Regions from separate parts of the Homo sapiens genome. Here regions 1 and 2 are each linked to region 3. Evidence: fine-mapped QTL for protein levels in blood plasma. A gene starts in region 3. Each other region holds a variant in brackets. All regions are shown on one strand. Distances are between the middles of the regions.

Region 1 (2,765 bases), 57 kb before region 3:
ACTATCTAAGAACACTATCTAATTTTCATCACTCCACAAGGAAACCTTGTACTCTGTAGCAGGCTCCCCTCTTCTCTTCTCCTCCCAGTCACCAGAAACCATTCATTTATTTTTTATTTCTATGGATTTGTTTATTCTGGGCATTTCATATAAATGGAATCATAAAATATGTGATCTTTTGTAATGCCTTCTCTCACTTAGCATAGTATTTTCAAGGTACATTCATGAAATGTTAGTAAATTTTGTTTTGTAGCTGAATAATATTCCACTGTATGGATATACCATACTTTGCTTATTCATTCATAAGTTGATGGACTTTAGAATTTTTCCTCTTTGGCTATTGTGAATAATGCTGCAATGAACATTTGTGTACAAGTTTTTGCATGGATGTATGTTTTCATTTCTCTTGGGTAGATATCTAGGAGTGCAAATGCTACTTCATATGGGACCTCTATATTTAACATTTTCAGGAACTGCCAGACTGTTTTCCAATGTAACTCCACCATCTTACTATCCCATCTGCAGTGTAGGAAAGTTCCAATTTCTCCTCATCCTTGTCAACATTTGTTATATTTGTCCTTTTTAAAGTTTAGTTGTCTTAATGGGTGTGAAATATATTTCACTTTGGCTTCAATTTGCATTTCCCTAATGGCTAATGAGGTCAACCATGTTTTCATGTGCTTATTGGCCATTTGTATATCTTCCTTGGAGAAACATCAATTCAAATCCTTTGTCCAGTTTTCAACAGGTTTGTCTTTTTATTGTTGCATCGTGAGAGTTTTTTTGTATTCTAATATAAGTCCCTTACCAGATACATAATTTATAAATATTTCATCCCATTATGTGGATTGTCTTTTTACTTCCTAACTGGTGTCCTCTGCAGCATAAAAGTTCCTAATTTTGATGAAAATCTGATTTTTCTCTTTTTTCTTTTGTCACTTGGGGTTTTAATGTCATATCTAAGAAACCCATGCCTAAATCAAGGTCCTGAAGATTTATATTTACATTTTCTTTTAAGAGTTTTCTAGTTTTAGCTGTTGGAGTTCTACCTATAATCCATTTTGAAATAATTTGGTAAATAGTGTGAGGTAGTGGTCCAACATCTTTGGCAGATGGATATCCAGTTTTCCCATCACTGTGATGGCATTTTGAAAATATGATTGAAACATCCACTTGTAGAGGCCTTCTTGCATGGATGAGGCATCATCCTCCAGGACATCGTACACACCCTGAGTCAATGACTAGTATATAGTGCTGTGTCTTCAACAGGTAGGACATACAGGTTTAGGAACCAAGGGATAGAAGCAGAAGTAGCCTCAGCAATCCATATGGGAAATTTCTTTTTTCTATTTGCTGAAACTCTAAGGGCTTAAGAATTCTTGTTCCTAGAAAGGTAACATTTCCGCCAGGAACACAGCCAGACACGATTAAGTTTTATGCCATAATTTCCACCCTGTCACTTCAGGCTTCTCATGCCAGAACAGCAACAGATGAAAAAAAAAAAAAAAGAAGGAAATGCCAGTCAGAGAGAGCTTGGAATGAATATTAAAAGACAGAAATAGTAACTGTCCATTTCCACCTTGAGGCCAGCTGCAGAGATAGAGTATTTTGTCCTATTAGCTGCTCCCTGGTAA[A/G]TTTTTCCAGGTAGAGAAACCAACAAGAACACTGAAGAAGCTGTTTCCAAACTCTATTAAACAAAACAAATGGATGCATGGAACACAAGGGGTGGACTGTAATAGTTCCCCTTCAGAATGAAATATTCTTTACCCCAGCCTCTAGAAATACAGGTGGCTGATGGCTCTCAGCTTAGTCTCTCCAGGAACTGCCCTCGGCCAGAGTTGCCCCAAATTGTATCTCCCTCTTTAGGGATAATCTTCATGCAATTACTGGTTTTTGCATGATATATGAAAGCCCAGTCCCCTGCCTTAAGATGAGACAACTCTGAAGGGTCATTGCAGTCCAGAACCCCCCATAGGATGGGCTAAGCCTTTGATACTACTGCATCATAGTTCACCTTCCTCCCTCTTCTTAATCCTACTTCCTTTATTTTCACACAGGAGTTGATCCTGAGGACACTCTCAAACAAACTTCGTATATGCAGATCTCTGTCTCAGAGTCCATTTCCCAAAGAATGCAATCTAAGAAACTTATTAGGAGTAAATTTTTGCAACACTCCTCACAACTGTTAGTCTTATCTACATATCCCTAAGCTATATATTTAAAATGATAAACTGATGTATGCAGAGCCTTCTTGCTGAATACTTTTAAAGACAGACATATATAATTTTAAGAATCAAATGGGAAACAGAACAGCATAGAGATGGTCTGCATAGTCTTTGGTGTATTAAACCTGAATTTGAGTCCTTGATCCACTATTGACTATCTCTTTGCCCTTCAGTAAATTACTTGACATTTTATATCCTAATTTGTTCATCTGTAACATGGAATTAATAATAGTAACTGCAGGCCAGGTGCAGTGGTTCACACCTGTAATCCCAGCACTTTGGGAGGCCGAGGCAGGCAAATCACATGAGGCCAGGAGTTTGAGACTAACCTTTCCAACGTGGTAAAACCCTATCTCTACTAAAAATACAAAAAAATTAGACAGGTGTGATGGCATACACATGTAATCCCAGCTGTTCTGGAGGCTGAGACATGAGAATCATTGAAACTGGGAGGTGGAGGTTGCAGTGAGCTGAGATTGTGTCACTGCACTCCAGCCTGGGTGACAGAGTGAGACCCTGTCTCAATAATAATAATAATAA
Region 2 (2,765 bases), 100 kb before region 3:
TACAGTAAAGACAAGAGAGCCCTCCTCAAATCTACTGAACTGCTACCTCTGTAGCCTCAGGGAGAAGAGAAATACTGTGTATTGCCAAAAATGTTGGCAAACAAAAACATATTTTATTTTGTTTTCAGAAGCATTGTTTCTTAGAGCTATACAGTATGGAACAAAATCCCTCTTCATTATATATTCTTAGTTAATAAACACATGCACATTCTAAAATGTCAACCTGTGGAGGGAAAATAAACATGGGATGCTAGGCCCAGTATTACACACTTTGCATTTGCTAAATCACCTAATTCTAAGTGACTATTAAGCACTCTGAATAAAAAAGTGGTGCTCCTTTCCTTTCTTTTTTTTTTTTTTTTTTGACATGGGGTCTCGCTCTGTTGCCCAGGCTGGAGTGCAGTGATGCAACCTCCACATCCCGAGTTCAAGCAATTCTCCTGCCTCAGCCTCCTGAGTATCTGGGATTACGGGCACACGCCATCATGCCCAACTAATTTTTGTATTTTTAGTAGAGACGGGGTTTCGCCATGTTGGCCAGGCTGGTCTCAAACTCCTGACCTCGTGATCCACCCACCTTGGCTTCCCAAAGTGCTGGGTTACAGGCATGAGCCACTGTGCCCGGCTTCCTTTTAATTCCTATTGCTTTCCTTAATAATGGCACAGATTATAAATAAGTAACCCACAGGGCTGGAGAGGATGAGTTAAACCGGAATCTCTCTATACTTTTTTGGTACCACCGTTTTGGAAGAAGCATTTGGCAGTATGTATGAGAAGCCACCAAATTGTGTAAGGAAGTCTGAGGAAACTCTGCTCTCAATTCTTTCATTCATCCTCCCTCATTATCTCCCTTGTAGTAATCGTTCCTCATTCTGAATTCCTAGAACAATGTTTGTGTATTTTACTCATCACAACATCATTATCCTATAATATATTACATGTACTTGTTTTTCACTCTTATCACCCTCATCCCCGGGCTTTATACTTTCAGAAGATAGTGACCATATTTAACACACACTTCTTCTAACCTCTTAGCATACCTATTTTATATACATATATATACATATATATAAGTTTTCATATATATATATATGAAAACTTAGTAAATTAGCAATTGTCTGGGAATCTCCCTGGGTCTGTAGGTGTGTTTACTTAAGCATCATTGCAGATGGTTTTAATTTACAAAATGTTACAGCTGATCACAGAAAGACTTCAGACTTTCCTGAGACCACCCTAATCAGATTCACTTAACTCCAACTGTAATTTATGCATCCAACTATAACACAATATATTATATAAAAATATGAACATATAACGGAAGCGAATTCAGTGAATGTGTCTATGACTCTCATGAAACATCTTCACTGTGTCCTTACAGAGGCAGTTATTTCTGTTAGGCAGTTTGCAGATTCTTGATCATCTACACCCCGTGCACACCCTTCTGAGTACCATCAGTACAGGTACAAGACAGGACTAGCTTCA[C/T]GAAAGTACATACAAAAATAGCACTTTCAACAGCAATAGCACCCTAACAGTAATCTTTTGCAAACCTCAGAGTGCTGAACTAAAGTCCCTTTTCTGCATTTTAATGACTTGTTTGAAAGTAACAGCTGCCTAAGACATTAAAACAAAACAAAACAAAAATGCTGAGTTCTGCTTGGTGTTTCACTTACTCAAATCTCTAAGAATGTTTACTGTGGTTAAAGTTACCTTCAGGAAGGGTCAGCATTTGCAAAGGCCTTACTATTCCTACGGAATGTATCTTTTGGCAAAATATCCCCAAATCTATGAGAAATCATTTATGCAAGCTATGAATTTAGTTAACAAGTAATCAACAAGCAATTCTTACTTTAATCTAAATCTTCCAAAGTTAGGATTCAAATCAGTCACCTGCTGGCTGCCTGGACACATTCCACATCTCGGTCCCTTAATCTCAGTTTGAGCTTTGGGTCTGCTTTTCAGATAGAACCTGGGCTAGTTTGTTTTTTTCAAGTTTTTGCAAATCACAAATTCTACAATCATATGATACGTATATGACCTATCATAGATACTGGGAATTTAGGTTTGCAGAGCTGCACGATGGTGGCTATTGGGCCAAATCTATCTTGAACACTTCTTAAATTTGGATCAAAGAATTTCAGGAGGGGAGAAAACACTTCCTTTAAATTGAATGGCTTCATTTAAAAAAAAATCCAGAGATTTAGGCCTAAAGTCAAATTTCACCTTCTTACAAACAAAAAATCAAAGGTCTAGCAATCTTCAATTCAGCAGTTCCATATTGACAGAGCACAATTTCCATATTCATAGACTACAGCCCTACAGGGAGTAAGACATCCATGGATGTCAGCAAGAAATTCACATATAATTACTTGCAAAATAAGTTGATTTATCAAATAACATATCTTGGATTGATTTATGTCATTCTTCCTCCTGGAATATTTTTGCCCTTTATCCTTCAAGGCATAAAGTCTTGAAGGTACATCTAAGTATAATACCACTTTATCAGAAATTCAATTCAACACATCTCTACAAGAAGTAAGATAAATAAATAAATAAATTAGCCTGGCGTGGTGGTGTGCCTGTAGTCCCAGCTACTTGGGAGGGCTGAAGCCAGGGGATTGCTGGGCCCAGGTGTTCAAGGTTATAGTGAACTATGATCTTACCACTACACTTCAGCTTGGGTGATGAAGTGAGACCCCTGTCTCTAAAAACAAACAAAGGAACATTTCATAACGTGAAAATTATATAAAATTTGAATTTTAATGTCC
Region 3 (2,765 bases):
ATAATACCTCTGGACACATCTCCTTGTTGTAAATCAATAAGCAAATGCAATACAGGGAAAGACATACGGATTGGAGAGTTGTACGGAGCTTTGCACAAGCAGAGCCCAGAAGCTGTTCGTTCATTTCACGCGACCAGAAAAAATTCCTGATGGTGCTATGACCCCGGTGCCCGGTTGGCACTTCCTGGTTTTCTGTTTCTGCTATTCTGTTACCTGCTTGGTTAGCTTTGCAGGCTCCTCAGAGAACACAGAAACAGCTGAAACCAGGGTCCGAGCTCAGGAAACCTGGACTACAGCGCAGCAGGGTAAACCTGACAAATAAACGCGACGGGGAACTCCGTCCCAAGCTGCTGATCTGTGAGTAGAAAGAAAATGCAGCTTAGAAAACTTGATCGCTAATGAAAGAATCGGCCACCCTAGCTTTCTCAGACCTGGGAATCTGGGCCTGGGGGGTGGTTCCAGCAAAGAGGTATCACATTCCCACATTCTGCATCATGCACCTGGAATTGTTCCTCAGCATCCCTAGGAGTCACAACTTTTTTCCCCCAACTTTAACTGGTCAAATCCACTGCGCGAAGGGCAAGCCCAAGGGACCTACCACTCAATTTTCAGCGCTCCAGCTGGGGATGCAGCCTTCCCAACCCGAAACCAATCCTCGCCCCAGAAGGGGAAAAATAATCTCCCCAGAGCAAGTCCGATGAGAGAAGCATCTTTTATTCTCGACCCGTCAGGTGCATTTCCCTGCAAACAAACTTCGGGGCTGAGGAGCCATGAAGCCAGGGCGTAAAGTTTGCCCTGGCAGGTGGCTCATCCCTGTGGCCCGGCCGGCGCCAGGAGTCGGGCATCCCGGACTTACCTGGTCTCTGCAGCTCGCCAGACGCCCGCCCCGACGGCCCACTCGCCGCCGCCGCCGCCGCCGCCGCCGCCGCCACCGCCGCCGCCGCAGTTAGTCCGGGCCCGGGGGGCCGCCGTGCGCGCCCGCGTAAGCCGCCGCCGCCGCAGGCGCAGCACCCTCGTCCGCACGGTTCCCGGCCCAGTCCACGGCGCCAGCCCGCCCGCCGCTGCCACCGCCGCCGCCGCCAAGCGCCAGGCTGCTGTGGCTGCTGCCGGCGCCTAGCGAGCACTGCCCGTGCCTCCGCCACTCCGGCTCCGGCTCCGGCTCCGACGCGGACGCTGGAGGGAGGGGAGACCGGGCGGACTGGAGGGAGGGAGGGGCGGGGAGCGCGGCGGAGCAGCCAACTGGGTCCCGAGCCTCGCGTCTGCGGCGCCCCCAGCGCCTCTGCGCCGGCCGGACCCCGCGCGGCCCTGCGCTCGGCCGCGTGCACCCACGTGTGTCCGGCCTCCGCAGGGCCCTGGGCGGCGGCGCGGGCTGGGCGGCGGTCACCGTGTCACCTCCGGGTGGCCTCGTGCCACGCAGTTAGGGCCCTCGGAACACGGGGTTAAGGCAGGAATTCCACTTCTAGAAAAGCCTCCTGCAGCTGCGCTCCCACAAGTGCGCAAAGATTGCCAATTTTAATATTAAAGCGGATAATTATTAAGGGCTCACTAGGTAGCAGGTCGTGGACTGCGCTAAATCAATTAGTTCATGCAGTCCCCAGAGCAACCTGGATCTATTATTATTCCCGGATTTAGTGATGAGGAAATTGGTTTGCTTAAAGTTTCAATGAGTCAGTTGTGAGAATAATCGCAACTATATTCTGTCAAGGACCCTGTGAAGTAGATCTTACCACCTTTATTTGCCCAAGTATACACACAGTGGTGGGTTGGAGAACCCGGACTTGAATAAGCCTGTTGCAGTCCTGAGCCTTTGCGCTGAACCGCTGGTGACTTACTTCCAGTCAAACCCGTGCAAACACTGCAACTTTAGTTGTACGAAAAACAGTTGGGAACAACCTACCTGTCCTTCATTAGGAGAGTGGCTGATAAAATACAGTGGAGACATACAGCGGCAGAGAGAAAGGTGCATCTACTAGTATTGGCATAAATGACCTCCAAGAGGTATCCTTAGAGGCTGGGCGGAGGTGGGTCACTCCTGTAATCCCAGCACTTTGAGAAGCCAAGACAGGTGGATCTCTTGAGCCCAGGAGTTTGAGACCAGCCTGGGCAACATAGGGAGACTTTGTCTCTGCAAAAAACAAACAAACAAAAAGTTTAAATTAGGTGGGCGTCATGGCACGCACCTGTTGTCCCAACTACTTGAGAGGTTGAGGTGGGAGGAGCACTTGAGGGATCACTCGAGCTCAGGAGGTGGAAGCTGCAGTGAGCCATGATTGTGCCACAGCACTCCAGACCAAAAGACTGAGGGAGACCCTGTCTCTAAATAAATAAAAAAATAAATAAACGGTATTGTTAGGAGAACTTGGGACATGTACTGTTGATCGGCACAGGAAAGTTGGTACCTGTACCGTTTTTGTGCTTACAAGCACTTACACACACACACACACACACACACACACACACACACGCACGCACCCTTTTGTGTGTATGTATCCATATTTATGCATTCACAATTTCTGAAAGGATGTCTAAGGATACTGTTAACAATTGTTAGTCCTAGTGAGTGAGACTGAAATTGGAGCAGAGGAGACTTTATACTTTTCATTTTATAATTCTCTGACATTGTTTTTAAAATGTATCACGTTGTCCCTTCATATTAAATAATCTAGTCACATTTAATTAGACTTGACAGTTTATGGCCCTGTTTCCTCTCCTTGATCCTCTCCCTGTGATTCCTGCAGATGGAATGAAGCAACACCTCATCAAGA

Which allele goes with the higher level. Positions count from the first base shown, and alleles are read on the strand shown. Strength reflects both the effect of a copy and how common the allele is.
In carriers of allele A in region 1, the plasma level of the protein whose gene starts at base 1,125 in region 3 tends to be higher than with G alone (strong association).
For the plasma level of the protein whose gene starts at base 1,125 in region 3, allele C in region 2 goes with a higher level than allele T (moderate association).

Evidence for each region. A credible set is the group of variants that fine-mapping cannot tell apart. PIP is the chance, under the fine-mapping model, that this variant and not a neighbour inherited with it causes the effect. Protein levels are from antibody-based Olink assays in UK Biobank. Linkage for the fine-mapping came from a reference panel and not from the study's own genotypes, which makes the PIPs less certain.
Region 1: its variant is the best candidate, but not a certain one, in a credible set for the plasma level of the CNTN3 protein (UK Biobank, PIP 0.54).
Region 2: its variant is the best candidate, but not a certain one, in a credible set for the plasma level of the CNTN3 protein (UK Biobank, PIP 0.71).

The regions. Positions count from the first base shown.
Region 1 is chr3:74,556,235-74,558,999 of GRCh38, forward strand. All of the region lies in intron 1 of CNTN3 (contactin 3), which reads right to left. Among named protein-coding and RNA genes, the nearest start is that of CNTN3, 57 kb to the right of the region's middle. The variant A/G (reference allele first, on the strand shown) is at 1,635.
Region 2 is chr3:74,508,968-74,511,732 of GRCh38, forward strand. The region is part of intron 2 of CNTN3 (contactin 3); the gene reads right to left. Among named protein-coding and RNA genes, the nearest start is that of CNTN3, 100 kb to the right of the region's middle. The variant C/T (reference allele first, on the strand shown) is at 1,483.
Region 3 is chr3:74,613,535-74,616,299 of GRCh38, forward strand. CNTN3 (contactin 3) reads right to left here and starts at 1,125. Exons shown (of 23, transcript NM_020872.3): 1 at 857-1,125. LOC105377166 (a long non-coding RNA gene) reads left to right here and starts at 269. Exons shown (of 3, transcript XR_007096257.1): 1 at 269-357; 2 at 2,739-2,765.